Homo sapiens: one gene and its partners. The protein of the gene in region 6 interacts with the protein of the main gene of each other region in a biochemical or structural test. Each region holds a gene or a part of one and is shown on either strand. Other genes may lie near its edges.

What was found.
Region 1: the proteins of GOLPH3 (region 6) and EBAG9 form a complex in vitro, tested with the Homo sapiens proteins (one study listed by BioGRID).
Region 2: the proteins of GOLPH3 (region 6) and FAM3C form a complex in vitro, tested with the Homo sapiens proteins (one study listed by BioGRID).
Region 3: the proteins of GOLPH3 (region 6) and PGAP4 form a complex in vitro, tested with the Homo sapiens proteins (one study listed by BioGRID).
Region 4: the proteins of GOLPH3 (region 6) and CANT1 form a complex in vitro, tested with the Homo sapiens proteins (one study listed by BioGRID).
Region 5: the proteins of GOLPH3 (region 6) and TPST2 form a complex in vitro, tested with the Homo sapiens proteins (one study listed by BioGRID).
Region 7: the proteins of GOLPH3 (region 6) and DIPK2A form a complex in vitro, tested with the Homo sapiens proteins (one study listed by BioGRID).

The regions. Positions count from the first base shown.
Region 1 is NC_000008.11:109,553,673-109,557,172, forward strand, and holds part of EBAG9 (receptor-binding cancer antigen expressed on SiSo cells), read left to right. Parts: intron 1-192; coding exon 193-271; intron 272-1,056; coding exon 1,057-1,215; intron 1,216-3,262; coding exon 3,263-3,370; intron 3,371-3,500. UniProt on the Homo sapiens protein: May participate in suppression of cell proliferation and induces apoptotic cell death through activation of interleukin-1-beta converting enzyme (ICE)-like proteases.
Region 2 is NC_000007.14:121,389,809-121,393,308, reverse strand, and holds part of FAM3C (protein FAM3C precursor), read left to right. Parts: intron 1-381; exon of another isoform or gene 382-441; intron 442-1,947; exon of another isoform or gene 1,948-3,500. UniProt on the Homo sapiens protein: May be involved in retinal laminar formation. Promotes epithelial to mesenchymal transition.
Region 3 is NC_000009.12:101,484,374-101,488,658, forward strand, and holds the start of PGAP4 (GPI-N-acetylgalactosamine transferase PGAP4), read right to left. Parts: upstream 2,801-4,285; 5' UTR 2,576-2,800; intron 2,398-2,575; exon of another isoform or gene 2,195-2,397; intron 2,096-2,194; exon of another isoform or gene 1,883-2,095; intron 1-1,882. UniProt on the Homo sapiens protein: Golgi-resident glycosylphosphatidylinositol (GPI)-N-acetylgalactosamine transferase that catalyzes the N-acetyl-beta-D-galactosamine transfer from an UDP-N-acetyl-alpha-D-galactosamine to the 4-OH-position of the first mannose of the glycosylphosphatidylinositol (GPI) of a GPI-anchored protein (GPI-AP).
Region 4 is NC_000017.11:79,003,265-79,006,764, reverse strand, and holds part of CANT1 (soluble calcium-activated nucleotidase 1), read left to right. Parts: intron 1-3,500.
Region 5 is NC_000022.11:26,521,496-26,524,132, reverse strand, and holds the end of TPST2 (protein-tyrosine sulfotransferase 2), read left to right. Parts: 3' UTR 1-2,137; downstream 2,138-2,637. UniProt on the Homo sapiens protein: Catalyzes the O-sulfation of tyrosine residues within acidic motifs of polypeptides, using 3'-phosphoadenylyl sulfate (PAPS) as cosubstrate.
Region 6 is NC_000005.10:32,167,820-32,171,319, reverse strand, and holds part of GOLPH3 (Golgi phosphoprotein 3), read left to right. Parts: intron 1-3,500. UniProt on the Homo sapiens protein: Phosphatidylinositol-4-phosphate-binding protein that links Golgi membranes to the cytoskeleton and may participate in the tensile force required for vesicle budding from the Golgi.
Region 7 is NC_000003.12:143,981,823-143,985,322, forward strand, and holds part of DIPK2A (divergent protein kinase domain 2A isoform a precursor), read left to right. Parts: intron 1-3,500. UniProt on the Homo sapiens protein: May play a role in cardiomyocyte proliferation through paracrine signaling and activation of the PPI3K-AKT-CDK7 signaling cascade.

The DNA of each region.
Region 1 (3,500 bases), on a different chromosome or scaffold from region 6:
AAAAAACATTCACAGGATGTCTGATTTATGACTTTTTTTTACCATAAATTAGTGAGTAACTGTTACTAAAATCAATAATCATAAAATTGAGAAAGATCTTGTTTTATAAGCCTTCAATTACCATACATAATAGTGCTTTTACTTTGCTTGTTTTGGTGGTTCTTGAAATAAATTATTTCATTTTTGTTTCAGATCTGGCAGAGGACGGAAATTAAGTGGAGACCAAATAACTTTGCCAACTACAGTTGATTATTCATCAGTTCCTAAGCAGGTAGGTTTTTTTTGTGTGTTCTTTTGTTTTGTTTTGTTTTGAAAGATTGAATAAGTGTCCTAGAACAATATTTTAAAAACTGGATTGCAGATCATTAATAGAAATTAATTTTTGTTGTGTTGTTAAATTTATCTGGTCTGAAAATTCTATTTGGTTCTACATTTTATCTTCTGTTTCTTTGTTGACATTTTCTATTGTGTTTTCATTGGTTTCAAGTGTTTGCTATTGTTTGTTGGAGCATTTTTATAATAGCTATTTTAAAGCCTTAGAGAATTCCAACATATCATTTTGGTGTTGGTATCTGTTGATTAACTTGCCTTGCAAATTTAGATGTATTGTTTTTATATGCTGAATAATTCTGGGTTGTTTCATGAACATTTTGAATACTATGTTTTGAGACTTCATCTTATTTAAATCCTGTGGAGAAGCTTGGTATTTTTTATCAGATGATCAATCTGGATAGGCTTGGGTGAAAATGTCCAGCCCTTCTGTGAGTTGTAGTTTTAATGTCAGTTCAGTTTTCAGAGCATTTGCTTTCGTTTTACTTTGTTTTTTGTTTTTTGATGGACATAATAGAATAAAATAGAACAGAATATATCAGAATGTCTTGTATTTTTTGAACTTTTGATCAAGTTTTGATCTGTGATATGAAATGTATGTTTTCCCGTGGGTTAAAAAAGTTTGAAAACCAGTGTTTTAGAAAGCCCATTTTTCTAATAAATCATCAATGATGTGTTCATTAAGTTGCCCCTTTGTGGCTGATAATGTTGATCAATTAAATTTAGACAGATGTTGAAGAGTGGACTTCCTGGGATGAAGATGCACCCACCAGTGTAAAGATCGAAGGAGGGAATGGGAATGTGGCAACACAACAAAATTCTTTGGAACAACTGGAACCTGACTATTTTAAGGACATGACACCAACTATTAGGAAAACTCAGAAAGTATGTTAAGATTTATGCTTTTGGAGATTAAACTACTTTTTAGATTCCTATAGTTAAAATTAGGTGATACAATTCACATTTATTAGAAAGCCTATTTCTTTTTTTTTTTTTAATACTTTAAGTTTTAGGGTACATGTGCACAACATGCAGGTTAGTTACATATGTATACATGTGCCATGTTGGTGTGCTGCACCCATCAACTCGTCATTTAACATTAGGTATGTCCCTAATGCTATCCCTCCCCTCTCCCCCAACCCCACAACAGGCCCCAGTGTATGATGTTCCCCTTCCTATGTCCATGTGTTCTCATTGTTCAGTTCCCACCTATGAGTGACAACATGCAGTGTTTGGTTTTTTGTCCTTGCGATAGTTTGCTGAGAATGATGGTTTCCATCTTCATCCATGTCCCTATGGAGGACATGAACTCATCCTTTTTTATGGCTGCATAGTATTCTATGGTGTATATGTGCCACATTTTCTTAATCCAGTCTATCAGCATATTTCTAATTATCAGTTGTTTGTTTTCTGTCATGTTAAGTAAGAATTTTATATGTTCAAATGACCTAGACATAGTTCTAGTAAGTTGTACCCCAAGTCTTTTAAAATTATATTTATATATGTATCGAAATCCTACTATATGTCAGATTCTAGACTCCAGTCTCTGCCATGGAGACTAAGGTGAATTGGATAAGAGTTCTAACAAGTTTGTACTTCAGTAATATCTACAAACTGATAGGTAGAGTTTATTGTTTGTAACCATTATAAAACTGATGCAGGACTCTAAGAACTTAAGAGTAATTGTGAGTTTGTGTTAGTCATCCATACATTATTTAATCCCTTTTGAATTGAATATGGAAGATCATTTAGAGATGCAGGGAATTACTGGAAAAAACAGAATGCTTGAGTATTTTCGTTTTTATTTATCAAAATAGTACATGTACTTTTTTTAAATCAAAAACTGTAGAAGAACTTATAATGAAAAGTGAGACTTCTGACCCATCACTCTTAGCCAGTTCTTCCAAGAAACAGCCACTCAATAATTTTCTGTTTGGATTTCTTCAAGTGTTTGTCATCGTATCTATCTATATGGTTATATTGCCATTTCTTGTTTACCAGTAACAGACATTGTCCACTGACATTCATACTATGGTAAATGAAGATTTATTTCTTACTACCATTCCCTCTCCTTTATTCCAGTCTACCTCACTAATCACTCTGCTATATCAGAAAAACACACTTAAAGTTCACTTTCTTATTCAAACATAGAAAATATTTTTATCATATATATATATAAACACACACACATACACACTTCATAAAAATTAGGACATTATTTCACATTTTCTAATACAGTTGTTCCTCACCTTCTTTCTCTCAGCTGATTTCAGCTATACATTTATATTTACATTGTCTAGGTTGATAACATTTACATTCTTTGTTGTTGAGTTGTCCAAATGTCTCAATGCTAAAACACATTAAATTGTGTATTTTTAAAGGATCCTTTAAGTGAGTTTCTTAATAGATGAATACCTTGCATTGTGGAAGTATACTGCTGCTCTCAGTAGGAACCTAGTATATTGCTATAGTGCCTTATTAAATTAGTTAGAATGGAAATGCTTTAAATGAGGCTACCAACATATCATATAAGTGTATTTTGATGCTACTGGCCTGAATGAGTTAATGTATTCATAGGTATCTCACATGCTGAGAGAGTTGTTAATACTATTGGCAGGATATGATACCTGTTGTTATTTAATACAGTAACTAAAAGTGATTGATTATATTTTGAGGTCTGGGGAAAGTAGGATAGAAAGAAAGAAAATGGGCCTGTATTAATTTTTAAAAGTGAAATACAATTTTTCTTAGTATGTAACTGATTTGTACAACAATTCCCTGGGAAATTGGTATTTACAGACTTTTTTTTTAGTTTTTACATTATAAATTTTAAGAAGAAATATTTTAAGTAATTAGAAAATGTTTTGGTTGTCTATTTTTATGTAGTGATTTGTAAAAGATCCCTATAATTCTTTTTCAATTAATCTTTCAGATTGTTATTAAGAAGAGAGAACCATTGAATTTTGGCATCCCAGATGGGAGCACAGGTTTCTCTAGTAGATTAGCAGCTACACAAGATCTGCCTTTTATTCATCAGTCTGTAAGTATGTTAATGGTTCTAGGGAAGGGTTTTGTTGTATTTCTGTTTTCTTTAAAGCAGAGGAATAAAATCTAAATGAGTTTAACATAGTATTTATATTTTTGTAACTTTGAAACAGGTTTAGCAGTTT
Region 2 (3,500 bases), on a different chromosome or scaffold from region 6:
TTTTATAATTTTTTTTCTTAAAAGACGGGATCTTACTATTTTGCACAGGCTGGCCAAATCTGCCCTCAGGTGATCCTTCGACCTCAGCCTCCCAAAGCTCTGGGATTACAGACATGAGCCCCTATGCCTAGCCAGATTTTCCATTTTAAAGTGTGGCATTTAGCACGTTCATGATGTTATGAACCGTCACGTTTCTAAAACATTTTCATCACCCCAAAAGGAAACCCCATATTCATTAAGCAGTTGTTCATTCCCTTCTCCCTGCCAATCCTCGGCAACCACTGATCTGCTTTCTGCCCCCATAAATTTATCTATTCTGGATTTTCCTAAAAATTGAATAATTCAATATGTGTTCTTTTGTGTCTGGCTTCTTTCACTTAGCATGTTTTAGAGGTTCGTCCTCTAAATCAGCAGGTATCAGTACTTCATTCCTTTTTAAGGGTGAGTAATATTCCATTCTATATTCCATTCATATACACCACATTACATATATATCATTTCGTTGATACGTACTGCATTTTGTTTATTCATTTGTTAAATTTTTGTGTGCTATTCAGAAAGTTATATGAACATCTCTAAATTGATTTTCGTCATAATCTCTACAAGGCTTGCTAAGGTAGTGTTATGGTGTCAGGTGTGCTACCTAACATATCATTCATTACTTGCAGTTAAGTGATTGTTAAATGAGTTTTGAAAGACGCAAGGTCAACAAAAATGGATTTTTAAGTTGGTTCAGTTGATACGTGGTGTGGTTTGGTTCTGCGTCCCCACTCAAATCTCATCTCAAATTGTAATCCCTGTGTGTCGAGGGAGGGAAGTGATTGCATCATGAGGGCGGCTTCCCCCATGTTGTTCTCGTGACAGTGAGTTCTTACAAGATCTGATGGTTTTACAAATGGAAGTTTTTCCTGCACTCTCTCTCTTCTCTCTCCTGCTGCCTTGTGAAAAAGGTGTCTGTTTCCCCTTAGCCTTCCTCCATGATTGTAAGTTTCCTGACACCTCCCCAGCCATGTGGGACTGTGAGTCAGTTAAACTTCTTTCCTTTATAGGTTACCCAGTCTTGGGTATTTCTTTATAACAGTGCAAAAACGGACTAATACAATACGTTTTCACAAAATTTTACAATAGAAGCATCTTTAGAGTTTATTTGAACAAACAATTCATGAATTGAGCAGCTCCAAACCAGATCTGGGAGCTCCACCAGGGGAATCCAGGAGGGAGGCTTTTATAGGAGGGTCACAGATGTAAAGCAAAGAAAATATTTGATTGGCTGCAGTTATACAGTTGTTTTATTTGGTCTGTCGTGTTGGAAGGTCCCCTAGATATGTAATTAGAAGTTTGTTGGATGTTTCTGATTGATTAAGCTTAAGTTCTCTTTTTCTTTAGCATAGGCATTTATAAGAAGTAACTTCATATTTTGCTTATGTTTGCAAATCAAGTGAGGTTGATGTCACTTATGAGGCCTAATTGGTTTTGTCTGCTCGGGGATTCTTCAGGCATGGTTTCCATTTTAATTTACTTCAGCAGTGCTAATTCTCATTCAGTTTTTGTGGTACAAATGGTGTGCCAATACTGCATTTCATCCAGGACCCTTGGGCGATGGAACCATTCTGTTTCTCCATGTCTTCATTTGGAGGGTGTGACTGATGGAATTATGTCTACCCTGGTGCACTTAAATTCTGCAGACTACTTCAAAACAGCATAAGTAGAGTGGATACCTAAGGGAATTCTTAAACACGTAGAACAGGAACCTATAACTTCTCATCTAGTACAATGTGAGATAGTTACATGAGATGAAGATAGCAGTTCTACTGTATGTAAATGTGTACCTTTCTCTAATCTCATTTTAGCAGTTTATGAGTGGGACACTTCATTACCCCATTTATGTTCAACCTCTAACAGTTAATATATTTCATTTTATTGTTGTCATTGTTTCTAAGAATAGCTATTTCTTTCTGTCCATCCATTCATTCATCTATCCATCTCTCCCTGGATGGTGTACTATAGGATTAAGGTAGCTTAGATCACAAGTGTTTAAACAATTGTAGAACTCATAGCAGGCAAAACTGAATGTCATTTTGTAGAGTTCTGTCTTGTTTTCTGTTTTGGGTATGTTTGTGGTCTTGGTTGCAGAAATCCAGTCACCATTTCATTTCGTTAAGTGGATTATAACTTTTTAAGCAAAATTCTGCTTTGGTAGATAATAAAAACTGCAAGAAAACATTTGAGTAATATTAAATCTAGTACTCTGGTTTAACCCCTGCAAACAGGAGTTCTTGATTATTTATTCCTCACCACATTTTCTCTGGATTTATCTGTTGCCCACCAAAACTGAAGACCCATTCTGGTGGCAGGTTGACTGTTCCAGAAAGAATGAAAAATCTTGTCATGTGAATTTTACTTTTGAACTTTTTTGGTTTAGATCTGCCTTACCTTCCCCCCCCCCCCCCCCCCCGCCCCACACAGCCTTTCCTGTGTGTGTGGATTGGTGTGCTGTAGATCTGAAGCTCTCAGATCTGAGCACGAATGACAGTCATCTGGGGAGCTTATTAAACATGCAAGAGCTTTAATCCCACTCCTAGGGATTCTGATTCTCCAGGTATGCAGTTGGCTCAGGAGTTTGCATTTTAAAAAACACACTAGTAATTCTGGTGTGCATGCTATAGGTAACCCTGTAGTAAGAGGTTCAAAGAACATATGATGTTTCATTGAATCTATGACGCCACAGATGGTAAGGGTCAGAATCTGGTAGCTTTCAGCTGCATGACTCCTAAGCCCTAATTTCCAATCTTGTGGCTAATTTGTTAGTCCTACAAAGGCAGTCTAGTCCCCAGGCAAGAAGGAGGTTTGTTTTGGGAAAGGGCTGTTACCATCTTTGTTTTAAACTATAAACTAAGTTCCTCCCAAAGTTATGGCCTATGCCCAGGAATGAACAAGGACAACCTGGAGGTTAGAAGCAAGATGGAGTTGGTTAGGTCAGATCTTTTTCACCATTTCAGTTATAATTTTGCAATGGTGGTTTCACTACTAAGAAATAAAAATGTGGTTGTAAGCCTTATCCTGAGTTTAGTTAAAATGAGGGAAGCAAGATGCAAAATGAGTTTAGTTAAAATAAATAGGGTATTAAGTGCCTGGCAACCAGAGGTTCCTCTTATTATCTTAACAGGTTATTATGAAGCATAGCAGATATGAGATTTTAAAAAATTACAAAGCAACAGTTCTTCAGATCTTTTACCATATAAATTATTTGATTGCAATGAGGAGTTTATATAAGGTGTCCTTAGTTGACATCTATTTGTAATGAAAATTGTACTGATGACTTTGTTTTAAAATGCAACTTAGGTGTATATGGGGGTGTAATAGACTCCAGTTTGGCCCCATATTAATTTCATCCTACTCATTTCCAGTCATTTAGATGTTGCTGGCTCAGTTCAGAAGTCTGATTTCTATCCTCCTTGTACTTCAGTGATTCCTGTTTTGTAATTATAGTCCACTGAAAT
Region 3 (4,285 bases), on a different chromosome or scaffold from region 6:
AGGGTATGCTGTGGAAATGTTAAGAAGAGAAAGGTTTAAATATGTTGACATAAAAGAAATCTTAGCTAGGTTTGTGCTTTGGACTGAATGTTTGTCCTCCTCCTGCCCAGCCAAAATTCGTGTTATAAATCCTAATCTCCAATATGATGGTATTTGGAGATGGGGTCTTTGGAAGGTAATCAGGTCATAAGGGTGCAGACCTCAGTAATGCATGTTCTTTATTAGTGTCCTTATAAGAAAAGACAGGAGAGATCACTTCTCTTCTCTGCTTTCTCACATGTAAACCGGAAAGAGAGCCCTCACCAAAACTTGACCATGCTGGCACCCTGATCTGGAACTTCCAGCTTTCAGAATTTTGAGAGATAAATGTGTCTGTTGTTTAAGCCACCTAGTCTTTGAGAATGTGTTACAGCAGCTCAAGTAGACTAAGACCAGAAGGGAGAAATGCAAACTATATCAGTGCAAATTACAGAAAAATGTACAGAGATATGACCATTTTATTTTTAATGTGGAGTATAATTTAGTGAAGGAGAAAAGAAGGGTATGGGGATGGCAATTTCCTGTTTTGATATCTACACTTCTGCAAAGATCATTACTTTTATAATCATAATTAAGCATTTGATTCAACACTGAGTCTTGTGTTAGACACTGGGAAGGTGAACATGACAGTCAGGGCACCTGTTAAGTCCATTTTTAAATTTGTGATTTAAGTTGCTATAGCTATAATAAATTAAATGATGTATATATATATCTGTTTGTGGATTTTGGCATCTATCTCTCTCTGCATTGTGGTGCCAGGGCCATGTTATTTTCATTATGAAAGCTTTATAACAGGTTTTAATATCTGACTAGGCAAATTCTCTCTCATTACCCAGGATGATAATTTTCTAGGCCTTTAAAAATTAATTTTATTGAGGTGCAGTTTACATACAGTACAATGCACCACTTAAATATATATATATTTCGATGAGTTTTGTCAAATTTATACGCCCATATAACCATCAAAATAAAAAATTGACCAAAGTATCCAAAAGATCATTTGGAATTAGAACTAGTAAAAATTAACAGAAAATACTCGCTATAGTGCAACACGTGACAAAGAATTACTACTTCAATGTGTAATACACATAAAGTGTTTAAAAGTCAGGAGGAGAAAGATACTCCAACTGAAAAATGGGCAGAAGAATTAACAATCAACTCACCTACAGAAATGCAAAAGGCTACTACACAGAGGAAAAAGTGTTAATTCCCATGGGTAATCAAAGACATGCAAATTAAGACAAGATACCATTTTTTGGTCCACGCTTTTGATTTAAAACTTCAAATGTGTATACATAGAGAAAATTTTAAGATATGCAGAAAATCTAAACCATCTAGAAGTTGAAGTTTTAAGTTATTTTTATTTTGCTTCTCCTTTGGATTTTTGTTTACTGGATGTTTTCTAATATGTGTATCCTTACAACATTCTAATAATTCTAATAATGTTGATTTTCTCTTCTCACCTCATAAAGTACCTAGTGCAGTGCATTCTAGAAATTCACCCCTAAAAAAAAAAGCTATTTCCCCTATAGAAGGAGAAACACACACATGCACGCGCACACACACCCGCATGTGTTGCTAATGGTCCGCATGGTGAGATCATCATTGGAGCCGCCCTGCGGTCCCCCGGAGAGAGCCTGGGCCGAGCAGAGGATGCGGGTCACAACGACCCTGCAGGAGCTCACGCCCCAAGACACCGCGAGCGCAGTGCGACACTAGCGACGCCGGAGCCAAGGGCCAGAAAGAGGGCGAGACACACCCAGGTGGATCTAATTAACCCTCCCTCTTGGAAAAAGAATGGGGGACGATGTCCAGGGCCCTGGATCTAGTGTCTGTCGCTGACCTTGGGCAGTCCCTGCCACGCTTGAGCCTCAGTTTCCCACCCGTAGGCCGAGCTGACCGTCTCCATCGCTGCGCTCCTTCCCTTCTGCTGGTTTTTCCTGGTCCTGGGAGGGACGCCTTCCTCTGCCCAGTCGCCCTCCCCCAGCCCTTGGCTGCGAGGTCGCCCGCAGAAACCCAACACTGCTGCCGCGCTCTCGGCGCGCCCGGCGAACCTAAGGTGTGGACGCGCCGCGAGGGTCCCCTGCTTGCGGGCGGCCATTAGGCGCCAGGCCCCTTGGCGCTTCGGCCCTGCTAGGCTCGGCGAGGGTCTTACCCAGACTGGCACGCGCCCCGCTCGCGTCCTTCTATTGACCTGTCAGCGCAGCTGGCGCAGGCAAGGGCCAGGGAGGCGCCCCCGAGACACTCAACCATCCCCGCACTGATGCGGGCCCCTGCTGCCCTGGGGACCCCTGCGGGGTCCTCGCAATCCTCCGGCAGGAAGCGGTCGGAGCTGCGGGCAGGGCCGCTAGGCAACCCGCCTGCCCGAGGCGCACTGCCCGGGGCACAGGCCCTCTGCGATGACTCTCCCCAACCCCCAGCTGCCCTGCTTGTGCCAGCTGTGGCCACCCCTAATCCTTGTCCCCTCGCTCTAGTGTCCAGGGCTCCGACCACCGCGCCAGAAGGGCTGGGCAGATCGTGCGCAACAGAAACCTACCCGGTTGGGGCGACCAGCTCGGTCCCCTGCGCGCGCCGAGGGCCGCCTCTGGTATTGCCCAGGCTGGCTAGCTCATCCCGGTGGAGGCGCCATCTCCGGGGCCCGGAAGGAGCGGGCGCAGCGCGGTTTGGGTGTGCGCCGGAGCCTCACCTCCTCCCGCCTCGCAGCTCAGGCGCAGGGCTCCCCTTGCTCAGGCGGGCCATGTGACCCGCGAGCTGCGGAGAGACCGCGGCCCCCAAAGCGGCTTGGGGAAAAAGGACGGCAAAAGGCGCCAACTGATGGGCAGCCAGGGAAAAGCAGGAGTCGCCCCCAAGTCACGCAAACAGGAAGCCTGTTTCTTTTGTGAGGGGACTAGAAGCCAGCATTATATTTCATCAGGTGTGTACATAGAGACTTATTCACACCAATGGAACGATATCTCTCAATGCGTGTAAACGCTTCATGAGAAAGCTGTTACTTTGGGTCTTGAATGTTTTTCAGTCTTCCCCAAACCCTCAATTTAAACACAAACGGCCACGAGAGACATAACGCCTGAGGTATGAGAAAGTATGCACATTGATTGAGAACAATCCCGGCAAAGCAAATAGGAAAAAGATACGGAATGATCCGAGGGAGGAAAAATGTGGGGGTCAAAAGAAAAGTAACAGCCTCCTACATTCCACCTTGGACTTTCCCTTCTGAATGGGTTTTCAGCACACAATTGTACGGCCTTACTCAGTGCTTCTAATCCTAGGTTTGCCTGTCTAGGCCACAGGTTAGCAACTACAGTTTGCTGCCTGTTCTTGTACAGCCCACAAGCTAAGAATGTTTTTTGCAATATTTCATGGTTAAAAATGGAAGAATATTTCAGGGCTACGAAAATTATATGAATTCAAAATTTGATGATCGTAAACAAAGTTTTACTGCAACATAGTCATCATTTACATATTGTCTATGGCTGCTACCATGAAAGAACAGCAGAGTTGGATAGTTGTGACAGAGACCTTATGACCCACAAAACCTAAAATATTTACTGCCTGATTTGCCAACACCTGCTCTAAAAGGTCTGTTCAGTGGTCACAAGATAAAGCATTAAAGCCAGTAAATGCTCATATGATTTCTTCTTGTGTAAGTAAAATTGATACTAGATATTAACTTCCTTTAGAACCTTACAAACACCCACCTGAGCCCCCATTCATCATCTACTCTTTCAGCCAGCATTTACTGAAGAATGGTTCTGACATACTGCCATCACTATAGATGACAATGAAGTAAGAATGAGGTGTGGATCCTTCACTCAAGGAATTTGTCATTAGGAATGCTGGAAAACCTATATCTGAGGCTGGAAAGTATGAGAGCTGGATATAGCACAGAAAGGGAGCTTGGGAAGGTAGTTTCATTTCCTGGGAGAAAAAATGGGAGTCTGATATTCCGAAATTGGAGGATTGTAACCAACACAAGTTGAATTCAGTTCACTGTCATTGGCTCAGTGCTGGGGTCTAATCTATTTACTGGCTATGACAAATTAACTCCTCTGTGCCTCAATGTTCTCATCTATATATTGGGGACAGTGATATTTCCCTCATAGGTTTGTTGAGAGGTTTACATGAGATAATGTATATAAAGTGCTTAGCATTCTACCTGTCAAAATATCTAGCTTTCTATAAATGGTTGGTAGTTATTCACTTGTTTAACAAAAATTCATTGAGTACCTATTATGATGTTCCAGGC
Region 4 (3,500 bases), on a different chromosome or scaffold from region 6:
GTTATTTTCACACACTCTGGAAAAGGACACCTTCCCAGATGTGTGGTGCCATTTGGAATGTGCCTTTCAACTGAGAAGGTCGCCTTTTGGCTAAAATTCCTCCAGGTGTAACATCGATGATACAAATTAAGCAGACACAGCCTCTTTACAAGGCAGTAACTGCAAACCGTAGAGGGTTCTGAAGCTGTGCGCCCACACCATAGACAGTGACTGGTCCTGGCCCTTGGAAAAACCTGGAGGCTCTTTCCCCTCTTCCTCCTGTGATTGGTGGAGGAACAGCTCCCCGAGATGTCCACGTCCTACCTTCTGAGCCTGTGAATATGTTACATTACATGGCAAAGGGGAATTAAGGTTGCTGATCAGCCGGCCTTAAAGTAGTGAGATGATCCTGGATTTTCCCAGGGAGCCCAGTGTAATCACAGGGTCCTTAAGAACAGAAGAGGGAAGCAGAAGAGCCGGAGGGAGATGATGGCCAAGAGCCTTGGGGAAGTGCAGTGGGCGGGCTTTGGAGGGGGAGGAGGGGCCACCAGGCAGGGAATGTGGGTGCCTCCAGAAGCTGGAAGAGGCATGAGAATGGAGCCATGGCCCGTGTGAGGCTTCTGTCCCACAGGACGGTGCCTGCTGCCTGCCGTGTGCTGGATACTAGGGGCGGGGACAGGTGCAGAAGTCAGTCAGATCCTGAGCTTGACCTTTAAGGAGCGTGCTGTCTGTGGAGGCAGGATGGCCTAACCAGACTCCCTGTGACCTTCTTCCTTTCTGGTTTCCTTGTACTGCCCACCCCCGAGGAGATTTGCCGTGGAATTTGCAGGTACAATAGTTAGCCTTGCAAGTGCCAAAGCAGGAATCAGGTAACGTTTTCAAGGAGTCTGGCCCATAGCAGGCATTAATAAGTGTTTCTTTGAGATGCGCCACCCGTGTTCTCTCAGGCGCTGTTAGCATGAGTGTGTGAAGGCCTTGGCTTCTGCCTTGGCTGTGCTGAAGAGTCTGTAGGTCAGTGGGGTTTGCTCTTTACCATGGCAGTGAACACAGTGGGCACTCTGAGGCCTGCCTGCCTGCTCTCTGGGTGTGGGAAGGGAAAGGAAGGTAGCTCTTCTCCAGAGATAAGGGGTTGGCGCACCTGCCACCTGCCTACCCGTCCCTTCCAAGGAGGTGGGGGCTAGGATGTGGCGGCCTCTTAACAGGATGATGTGGCTTCCTGCCCTGCCTGGATCCTGAAAGGGAGGAGCCTGGCAGCCCTCAGTAAACCTGCTGGTTCTGCCACCTGTCCTATTCCACTCCTGCAGGAAGCTGGAGAAACAAACCCTCTTGGCTGTCTGCTGTCCAGGGAGTCGCCACTCCCTTCATTATAGCCTTGCTCAGAGTGCAGCGGCAGGCCTGGGGATGGCCTCGGGAGGTAGGTGGCCCCTGAGCCCTTCTCCTGGGAAAGGGCAGCAGCAGGGAGACGCCTCCTGGGTGTGCACAGAGAAAAGCACAGTTTCCCTAACTCCCCGCTCCCTAACTCCTCGCTCTTTAACTCTCACCTCCCTAACTCCCCCCTCCCTAACTCCCTTCTCCCTAACTCCCCTCTCCCTAACTCCCTTCCCTAACTCCCCTCTCCTTAACTCCTCTCCCTAACTCCCCCCTCCCTAAATCCCCTCTCCCTAACTCCCTTCTCCCTAACCCCCCTCTCCCTAACTCCCCTCCCTAACTCCCCCTTCCCTAACCCCCCTCTCCCTAGCTCCCCTCTCCCTAACTCCCTTCTCCCTAACTCCCCTCCCTAACTCCCCTCTCCCTAACCCCCCTCTCCCTAACTCCCATCTCCCTAACTCCCCCCTCCCTAACTCCTTGCTCCATAACTCCCCCCCAGCTCCCCTCTCCCTAACTCCCCTCCCTAACTCCCCTCTCCTTAACTCCTCTCCCTAACTCCCCCCTCCCTAAATCCCCTCTCCCTAACTCCCCTCCCTAACTCCCCTCCCTAACTCCCCCTTCCCTAACCCCCCTCTCCCTAGCTCCCCTCTCCCTAACTCCCTTCTCCCTAACTCCCCTCCCTAACTCCCCTCTCCCTAACCCCCCTCTCCCTAACTCCCATCTCCCTAACTCCCCCCTCCCTAACTCCTTGCTCCATAACTCCCCCCCAGCTCCCCTCTCCCTAACTCCCCTCTCCCTAACTCCCCTCCCTAACTCCCCTCTCCTTAACTCCTCTCCCTAACTCCCCCCTCCCTAACTCCCCTCTCCCTAACTCCCCTCCCTAACTCCCTTCTCCCTAACCCCCCTCTCCCTAACTCCCCCCTCCCTAACTCCCCTCTCCCTAACTCCCCTCCCTAACTCCCCTCTCCTTAACTCCTCTCCCTAACTCCCCCCTCCCTAACTCCCCTCTCCCTAACTCCCCTCCCTAACTCCCTTCTCCCTAACCCCCCTCTCCCTAACCCCCCTCTCCCTAACTCCCCTCCCTAACCTCCCTCTCCCTAACTCCCCTCTCCCTAACTCCCCTCCCTAACTCCCCCCTCCCTAACTCCTCTCCCTAACTGTCCTCTCCCTAGCTCCCCTCTCCCTAACTCTCCTCTCCCTAACTCCCCTCCCTAACCTCCCTCTCCCTAACTCCCCTCTCCCTAACCCCCCTCTCCCTAACACCCCTCCCTAACTCCCCCCCAACTCCTCTCCCTAACTCCCCTCTCCCTAACTCCCCTCCCTAACTCCCCTCCCTAACTCCCCTCTCCCTAACTCCCCCTCCCTAACTCCCCACTCACTAACTCCCCTCTCCCTAACTCCCCTCTTCCTAACTCCCCTCCCCAATTCCCCCCTCCCTAACTCCCCCCCAACTCCCTACTCCCTAACTCCCCGCTCCCTAACTCCCAGCTCCCTCACTGGTGGCTCCCCTGCGCTCTGGGAGTGTCCTGTGGGATGGACAGATGCCTCCGTGGTGCCTTGCAAGCCTTGCAGGTGGTTATTCCTCCTGTGAGTGCTCCTGTGAGTGCTCTCCAGGCAGCAGCAGGGGTCCTGTCCCTGTAGGCCCCTGAGTCTGGGAGATAGCTGGTTTGCAGCCCCACTGAACAGGAGAGCCTGGCTGGCCACAGAACCCATGACTTTGCTGTAGTCCCTGAGTCCTCTTGTTGCTGATTATCTAAAATCAAACCATTACTCTGCAGGCACTGGGTTTGTCAATCTTTTCACAATAAAGCGAGCATTTAAACTGCTTAAGCTTTGAGGGGTGTAGGGAGAAGCCTCACACGAGCCCCTTCTGGAAAGGACTTTGTCCATCTTGTGTCTTACCCTCGCCGGTTCATTTCTGTTGTTTCTGGCTGGCAACAAACAAAAGAGCCCCCCCACCCCCCACCCCCGAAAAAGAACCCAGCTTTTTAAAGAACATGCAAACTCTTGCCTGCAGCAGGCGCCGGCAGCCAGGCACCCCGGCAGCCAGTGGTAGCTCATACACCAGCATGGGCTGTGGCAAAGGCATCTGATTTGAAATTTTTTTGCAAAATAAAATAATTCCTTGGGGTCCTGAAGGAGAGATGAAGCCC
Region 5 (2,637 bases), on a different chromosome or scaffold from region 6:
TTATTTTTTAAATGTTTGACACACAGTCTCTGATAAATGATCATTCACCAATCACCGATTACTCTCCTTGCTCTGTTAAGTGTGACACTGTCCCTTTGAGAATCTGGCGACAGCTATGTATCCCATCACCACACACCCCAAAAAAAAAATTTATGTCTGGTTCCAGGAGTTACCTTTTATGAGAAGTCCATCTGTGAAGACCCTGGATGTTCAGAGAACTTCCTGGGAAAACACTGAAAGAAAATAAAGAGGCCGGGCCCGGTGGCTCATGCTTGTAATCCCAGCACTTTGGGAGGCTGAGGTGGGCAGATAAGCTGAGGTCAGGAGTTCCAGACCAGCCTGGCCAACGTGGCGAAACCCCATCTACTAAAAATACAAAAATTAGCTGGGCGTCGTGGCGCATGCCTGTAGTTGCAGCTACTTGGGAGGCTGAGGCAGGAGAATTGCTTGAACCCAGGAGGCAGAGGTTGCAGTGAACCAAGATCATGCTAGTACACTCCAGCCTGGGCAACAGAGTGAGACTCCATCTCAAAAATAAAATAAATAAAACAAAATAAAATAAATACAATTTCTGTTTCTAGCCCCTAAGTGGTAGCACTGGGTCTTGTTCCCTGAAAAAAACTAGGCTCAGAATCCACTCTCATTTCATCTCCCCTGATTTGATCTGAAAAGATTTTGTTTAGAGTACTACATGAATATATTATAAAACATGGGACAATCAGAATTGATAGTAAGAAGGCAAGTGGCTCTATTTGTACTTCCTCTCAATAGCTCCTAAAGGTAATGCTACCATTTTCTGTTTGTACATAGTCTTCCAGACTTTAAATTTTTGAACATATAAATATTATCATCTTAAAGACGTATGGAAAAAACCATTTTGAATAGGTTATTCCAAAATGTAATTTAACAGATTGCTCTGGAGGATTGTTTGTTTGTTTGTTTTGGAGACAGAGTCCCGCTTGGTTGCTCAGGCTGCAGTGCAGTGGCACAAACACAGCTCACTGCAACCTCTAACTCCTGCAAACACAGCTCACTGCAACCTCTAACTCCTGCAAACACAGCTCACTGCAACCTCTAACTCCTGCAAACACAGCTCACTGCAACCTCTAACTCCTGCAAACACAGCTCACTGCAACCTCTAACTCCTGGGCTCAAGCAGTCCTTTCACCTCAGCCTCCTGAGTAGCTGGACCATGACACCTACCTAACTTTTTATTTTTTGTAAAGAGGGGAATCACTATGTTGCCCAGGCTGGTCTCAAACTCCTGGGCTCAAGCAATCCTTCCTCAGCCTCTCAAAGAGTTGGGTTTACAGGCGTGAGCCACCGCACCTGGCTCCTGGAGCATTTCTGATGTGAACATGTGCTGATCTAACACCACTCCTTTTACCAGCTGCCTGTTCTAGAGCAAACCATCTTTTTTGAGCATTCCACTTTGGCTAGGCCCTTAGGCTGTTAGCAGTTTTCATCGCTACTGGCAAAGCTGCAGTGGACGTTCTCCTGCACATATAACCTCTTGATGCCACTGTATGAGTGAGTCTCTGCAAAATGAGAAGTAGAATTGCTGGGGTGAAAGGCATACATACTAACTTTTTTGATTAATTCCACCCATGTACCCTGATTTGGGCAGAATTTTAATCTCACTGTGAAATCAGAGCTTTGTTCTAGAGCCTTTCTTGGGGGTTCCATGGATCAGTGGGTCAGCCGTCACTTGTGCCCTGGCCCATCCTCTGTCCAGCTTGGGCAGCATGCATCATTCATTCTGATTCCTTAATTTGCCATATGTGAAAACATGGTAATCTATACATTACTTGGGTGCTATTATTATATATAACTAGCTTTGGAGTCAGAATTAGCGTCTCATCCTGGCTCTACCACTTTCCAACTGTGCGACTGTGGCCAAGTGACTCCCCTTCTCTGAGCCTCAGTTTTCCTCTTCTGTAAAATGGGGGTAAAGGGATAAGAACTATAGGGGGATCTCAGGGGATGGTTAAGAGAAATCCATGAGATAAGCAAACACATTATCTAGTTTAGTAAAGCTAAGCAATGAAGACTTAACAGCCCCATGGTGAAGGCTTAATACATGGTAGCTATAATGATTACTATTAATATTGTGAAATAAAAGGTTGTGATGAACCAACCATATCTTCTCATCAGGATGTATGTTTGTCCAACTGATAGCCATTTGTAGTCATGATCTGGGGTTGGAGAAGGGTCTTCTGCACATGTGCCAGATGGACTGAATATAGATCTTCACTCTCGTTAGCAGCCACCAACCTGGTTGAGCCATCAGGGCCTCCAAAGGGCTTGGCAATTTTTCATTGAAAACAAAAAACAAAAACAAAAAAACTCTTAAACTATGTCTACCCAAAGAATAAATCCTCTACCCTTCCAGGGTAAGGGATGGACAGCTGATGGAATTACAGACCCAGGAAGCTCATGGTTGCCAGTCATTGGGTAGCAGAGGACATCCAGTCTCATTCATTGTTCCACTCATCTCTTGCGGCCCAACCAAGCAGCCCCAAACTGAGTGACTTAAAACAACTTGTTTTTTTGTTTGTTTGTATGTTTTTTTGAGAGCGTTTCACTCTTGTCGCCCAGGCTGGAGTGCAATGGTGTGATCTTGGCTCACTGCAACCT
Region 6 (3,500 bases):
TAAAACATTATGAAATTTTTTTTGCAATTTTTTTTTTTTAAAGCTCATCAGCTATTGCTAGTGTTAGTGTATTTTATATATGGCCCAAGACAGTTCTTCCAGTGTGGCCCAGGGAAGCCAAAAGGTTGGACACCCTTGCTCTAAATGTTTAAGGTGAAGCATATTAACATGCTGTTTTTCGGTGATTGGGTCTTAAGAAGATAATCTAAATAATTTGTTGAAGTTTAACCATACTCACATAATTTAAACAATTTAAAGTTATTTGGCGGGTAATTGAAACCATGTGTTCTGTTTATTTTGCATCAAGAGTCACTCATTATACTTTGCTAGTCATGGCTAAGGTCCAGATGCTTGCTAGCTTATTGTGAGCATTTCTTCCTGATTTCAGCAACCACATGGGGAAATTTTTTCTCTTTTTTTTTAGGCAAGTCCAGAGAGTTGAGGGGTGGGGTTGAGACTACTGGGATTTTGTATTGCTTTAGGTTTTGGTTTTAGGGATTAGCCTATATATTTTTTCCTTTCATCACATCTTTAAAATTTTTTTTTTTAAGAGATGGAGGTCTCAAGATGTTGCCCAGGCTGCACTCAAACTCCTGGGCTCAAGTGATCCGCCCTGAGTAGCTGGGAATACAAGGTGCATGCCATCAAGCCAACTCATCATGTCTTTACACTCTAATAACCAGCCCTGTCAACTTATCTGTTGGTATGTTTTTCCCTTGGGAGGCTCGCCACCATGTTTTTAACCTATAGTACTCTTTTTAGGAGGCAGGAATTGCTGTCTTACCCTGAGCCCAGGCGTTTATGCTAACTCATTGCTTTAACTGATTTTTACTTCAGCATTTATCTTTTTAATGTCTGGATTCTCCTAAGAACTTTAAAAGCTAAACTTTACATTTAAGCAAATCATTAATGTTGGAAATATTTTATATATGTGAGCTAATAACCTTATGTGAATATACTTGTTAAACCAGTACCTAGAGCAAGAAACAGAAGCCCTAGCCCTCCACTTGAGTATCTTTCCAGTCACTACCCATTCCTCAGGGGTAACCACTGGCTTAATATTAGAATTCAGCATAGATTAATTTTGCCTAGTTTTTTGTACTTTGTGTCTGCTTTTTGTTCAATGTGAGATTCATCCATATCGTGTGAGATTGTCCTTTGTTCTTATTGTCTTACCAATTTATTTTTAACATGTTTATAATCTATAATATTTAAAAAATTACTTTGACATATTCTGAGTCAAGTCTCCCTCTCTTTTTTGCTGAACAGAAGGTTCAGTTTTTGAATAAGCAGATGGTCTGGCTTCAGATTACCTGTTAGGAGTGAGTCTAAAGTCATTGTGATTGATTTTTTTTTTTTTCTTTACACATTTCAGATTTTTTTTTTTTAACCAATGATATTTGTTTTTTGCTTTTATAAAACAGGGATGGCTAGTCCCCTCAGAAGATTTTCATGCTCACTTGGGCAGAGAATCAGTGCATAAGTATTTAAGTAACTCTTTAAAGACCACAGTAAGGATGGCAGATAGTTTACACCTAAATTCAACTGCCAAGTAATTAGCAGTATTTCTTTAATTGACCCAGTGTTTGAGGGGGAGGGACAGCAAAAGTGCCAGGTATTTTCCTTTCCCTGTGTGTGTTTATTCTATAGATGCTTTCCATAGAATATTTTCAGGATGCTTTATTGAGAATTACCACAAATAACTGGTGTCATATATGTTTGAATGTCTTCATTGGTGGCAAATCTTAGTCTTTTAAGGTTAGATTTAATTATTTTCAGTGGCCAAGTATAATTTGGAGTATGCCTATGGAACAGCAGAAGCAGAGAGAGGCTCTATAGTCCTGTCCAAAGTGTATTCTTTGGCTTTTACATATAATTTAAGCCTTCTGAGCTTCAGTGTTTTCATGTATAATGGAAAAGTAGTCATTCCATATGATGGTTCTGATTGTACTGCTGTGGATGTTTATTAACTCCTCCCCAGGTCTTCGCTTTATTTTGTATTACTTTAGGGTTTCCCCATAGTGTGTTGCCTGTTTTTGAGACAGGGTCTTTCTTTGTCACCCAGGCTGGAGTGCAGTGGTGCGATCTTGGCTCACTGCAGCCTCAACCTCTTGGGCTAAAGTGATCCTCCTGCCTCAGCTTCCCGAGGAGCTAGGACCACAGGCACACACCACCATGCCCAGCTAATTAAAAAAAAATTTTTTTTTTATAAAGACAGGGATTTCACCACATGGCTCAGGCTGGTCTTGAACTCCTGGGATCAAGTGATCCTCCCGCTTCAGTCTCCCAAAGTGCAGGTATTAGAGGCATGAGCCACCGCACCTGTTTTTTTTTTTGTTGTTGTGTTTTTTGGTTTTTGTTTTAAGACAGATTGTGCTGTGTCGCCAGGCTAGAGTACAGTGGCGAGATCATAGCTCACTGCAGCCTCGAACTCCTGGCCTCAAGTGATCCTCCCGCCTCAGCCTCCCAAAGTGTTGGGATTACTGCGACCGGCTCTAGGATGCACTCTTGAAGCATATTATTCCCCTGCTGTTTTGTCATGCAGCCAGACTTGTCCAATCATATGTTTTCTTTCAGGGCTTTGGATCTTGAGAGAATAACGAGCTGTAGGGTTTTTTGGAGACCTTTCCAGAGTCATGTCAGCGTGTGGATCAGACTGTTCTTTGGCATGGTTCTTTGAGCTGCTTTCTCTGGTCTGTTGGCACTGTTTTTTTCCAGTCTGATTTTCCAGTCATCTTTCAGTGTTGTGAGTTTCAACAGCCTTCCAGTAAAGTTGCTTTTTAAAGATAGCCAGAGTCAGTTACTAATGTTTCTAATGCTTGTAGACAAGAACTGTAATACAGTAACTTAACTCTATGTCTTGAAAAATAAGTAGGTACTTGAGGTAAATAATATGTAATGGGGTAAAATACTTAAGATTAACCAAAATGATAGAACTGACTTTTGTGTGGCTTTTACACAGGCTCCAAAGATGTTTTCCATTTTTGGAATAAGGTTCCCAAGGTCACTACTTTGAAGTATAATAGTGATGAAGATGTATAACTTAACAAAAATTGTTTTCCTTTCTATACGTGTGGTGATGTCCACCATCTCTACATATCAAATCTGTAAATCAGAAATTCAGTCAACAAGTATTCAGAATTTCCAGATGTGCTGAGTTTTAGTAATTTAAAATATAATAAAGGCTTCTGAGTTTTTAATGAATTTTCGTTGTTTCTAAGACAAATGATATTTCCTTCATATTTTTTGAAGTTTTGAATTTTTATCTATTTTTTTCAGGTGTTTAAACACAGGTATGAGATATACAGGATCTCAGAAATTACTTTTGAAGTTCATTAAACTATTTGATTGTACTTTTTTTCTTTTGAGACAGGGCCTAGCTTTGTCTTCCAGACTGGAGTGTGGTGGTGTGATCATGGCTCATTGCAACCTCGACCTCCTGAACTCAAGCAATCCTCCCTCCTCAGTCTCCTGAATAGCTGGGACTATAGGCGCACCCT
Region 7 (3,500 bases), on a different chromosome or scaffold from region 6:
TAGCTTGGCCTAAATTTGCTTCTTACTACCTGTGTGACTTTAGGTAAATCGTTTAACACTGTACTAATAAGATTGAACTGGATTTACAATTGAGGTACAGTTAAACTCTAAATTTCTTGGATTTTACATTTCCTTTATTGATCACATAAAATATTTGATTTTGATCTAGGTAGATTATTAGGTTATTTCAGCATTTGGAATTTGTTTTGTGCTTATCAGTAATAAAAAACAAGTTAAAATACTGTGTTTTTGTGTGTACACGTTTCCAATTTTTAAGTTTCTTGCATTTTTAGTGCTTGTGGATGCTCTCTACGTTTCTTATAGCATCAGTGCTTTTAAGAGTTTAGTGACTAGTCTATATATTTCATTATGAATTAGAAATTACTAGAGGTCAGTAAAGATGTTTCTCTAATTTAGTGGTTCTTCACTCTATTTGGAAGGGGGTTCATTATTTGTAGATGCCGTTTTAGTAGGTGTTTAGGAGGTGCATGAAGATAAGCATATCTTTTGATGAATGTCTGGAATTGTTACTTAAAATTTTTAAATAGAGAAAGCCCATCAGACTAACAGCAGATCTCTCTGCAGAAACCCTGTAAGCCAGAAGAGAGTGGGGACCAATATTCAACATTCTTAAAGGAAAGAATTTTCAACCTAGAATTTCATATCCAGCCAAATTAAGCTTCATAAGCGAAGGAGAAATAAAATCCTTTCCAGACAAGCAAATGCTGAGAGATTTTGTCACCACCAGGCCTGCCTTACAAGACCTCCTGAAGGAAGCCCTGAATATGGAAAGGAAAAAACAGTACAAGCCATTGCAAAAACATACCAATTGTAAAGATGATTGACACTATGAAGAAACAGCATCAACTAATGAGCAAAATAACCAGCTAGCATCATAATGACAGGATCAAATTCACACATAACAATATTAACCTTAAATGTAAATTGGCTAAATGTCCCAATTAAAAGACACAGACTGGCAAATTGGATAGTTAGAACCCACCAGTGTGCTGTATTCAGGAGACCCATCTCACATGCAAAGACACACATGAAACATTTACCAAGCAAATGGAAAGCAAAAAAAACACAAAAAAAACAAAAGGGGTTGCAATCCTAGTCTCTGATAAAACAGACTTTAAACCAACAAAGATCATAAAAGACAAGGGCATTACATAATGGTAAACGGATCAATGCAACAAGAAGAGCTAACTATATATACATGCTCCCAGGATCAGGAACACCCAGTTTCATAAAGTAAGTTCTTAGAGACCTACAAAGAGACTTAGACTCCCACACAATAATAGTGGGAGACTTTAACACCCCATTGTCAATATTAGACAAACGAGACAGAAAATTAGCAAAGATATTCAGGACTTGAACTCAGCTCTGGACCAAGTGGACCTAATAGACATCTACAGAACTCTCCACCCCAAATCAACAGAATACACATTCTTCTCAGCATCATATTGCACTTATTCTAAAATAGTAAAACACTCCTCAGCAAATGCAAAAGAAAATCATAACAGTCTCTCAGACCACAATTCTAATTGCAGTCAAATTAGAATTCAGAATTAAGAAACTCACTCAAAATTGCACAACTACATGGAAACTGAACAGCCTGCTCCAGAATGACTACTGGGTAAATGATAAAATTAAGGCAGAAGTAAATAAGTTATTTGAAACCAATGAGAACAAAGACACAACATATCAGAATCTATGGGACACAGCTAAAGCTGTGTTTAGAGGAAAATCTATAGCATTAAATGCCCACAGGAGAAAACGAGAAAGGTGTAAAATCGACATCCTAACATCACAATTAAAAGAACTGGAGAAGCAACAACAAACAAATTCTAAAGCTAGCAGAAGACAAGAAATAACTAAAATCAGAGCAGAACTGAAGGAGATAGAGACACGAAAAACCCTTAAAAAAATCAATGAATCCAGGAGCTGGTTTTTTGAAAAGATTAGAAAAACCAGACCACTAGCAATACAAACTGTTTTGTATTGGGAAGGCTGTTTCATCTACATTTTGTATTGGGAAGGCTGTTTCATCTACATTTTGTATTGGGAAGGCTGTTTCATCTACATTGAAAATCTGTTGATTAGTCACTTCCATTAATTATCTTAGCTAGATCTTCTGGATAATTTGCTATGGTTTCTGTATCAGCACTTGCTGCTTCTCCTTGCGCTTTTATCTTACGGTGATGAATTCATTCCTTAAACTGCATTAACCAGCCTCTGCTAGCTTCAAACTTTTCTTCTGAACTCTGAGCCTTCATAGAATTGAGGAGAGTTGGGTTCTTGTTCTGGATTGGGTATTGGCTTAAGGGAATGTTGTGACTGATTTGATCTTTTATCCAGATCACTAAAACATTCTCCCTATTAGCAGTAAGGCTGTTTTGCTTTCTTAACATTTGTGTGTTCACTGGCGTAGCACTTCTGATTTCTTTTGATAATATTTCCCTTGCATTCACAGCTTGGCTGTTTGGGTTAAGAAGCCTAGCTTTCTGCCTATCTCGGTTTTAGATGTGCCTTCCTCACTATGCCTACCTATTGTTTCTAGCTTTTGATTTCAAATGAGATACCTGTAACTGTTTTCATTTGCACACTTAGAGGCCATAGTAGGATTAATAGGCTTAATTTCAGTATTGTTGTGTCTCAGGGAACAGGGAGGCCTGAGGAGAGGCCTCCCTGTTCCCTGGGGATGGCTAGTTGGTGGAGCAGTCAGAACACACACATTTATTGATTCCTTTTTTTCTCTAATGTTCATTTTCTAGTTACATATTTTAGCAGTGGAAGGTATCTTAGATAAAGCCTGTTATTTTACTTAAGGTGAAAATGAGTGTTCATGGTCATGGAACACGTTTTTTTTTGATTTAGGATGATAATCCTGCCAGTAGTTTTAAAATCCATTAGAAAACCTTGCTAAGATAAGAGTAATTTTGAGGCTAGGCCAAGGAGAACAGAAAATATGGCTGGGAAAGGGAAACAAGATGAACTTGGACCAGATGTGCTCAGAGTGGAGGTTGCATTAATAGGATATCAGTTTGTCCCTTCCCAACCTTTGGATGTAGGGTAAAAGACATCTCTCAAGAATCTTTCCCTGAATTCCACCCCATCTGCTTCCTGACTAGGAAAGGCCCCTACTAAATGATCCCCTGGGACCTGCACCACTGCTTAGTAACTAACACTTTTCATATTCATAATTATTTGTTTGGTGACTGCATGCTCTTCTAAAATAAAAGCCCATGGCTAAATGGAGACTGTTTGGTTCACCCTTAATTGCCACCGTAACACAGTGCCTGTTGCCTGGTAAATAACTGCTGGTTAATAGGCTGCAGTGCTATCAGTTTAAATAAAAGGATTGGTTGATTACATTTACACAAGTGAAGAAGATAAGGGAAAGCATAAATACTTTTAGATTTGGTAATAAAGACAGTGTCTTCCCTCTTATTGATCATTTTGGTTCTTAGATTTTGATAAGCAAGACTTGTCATCCT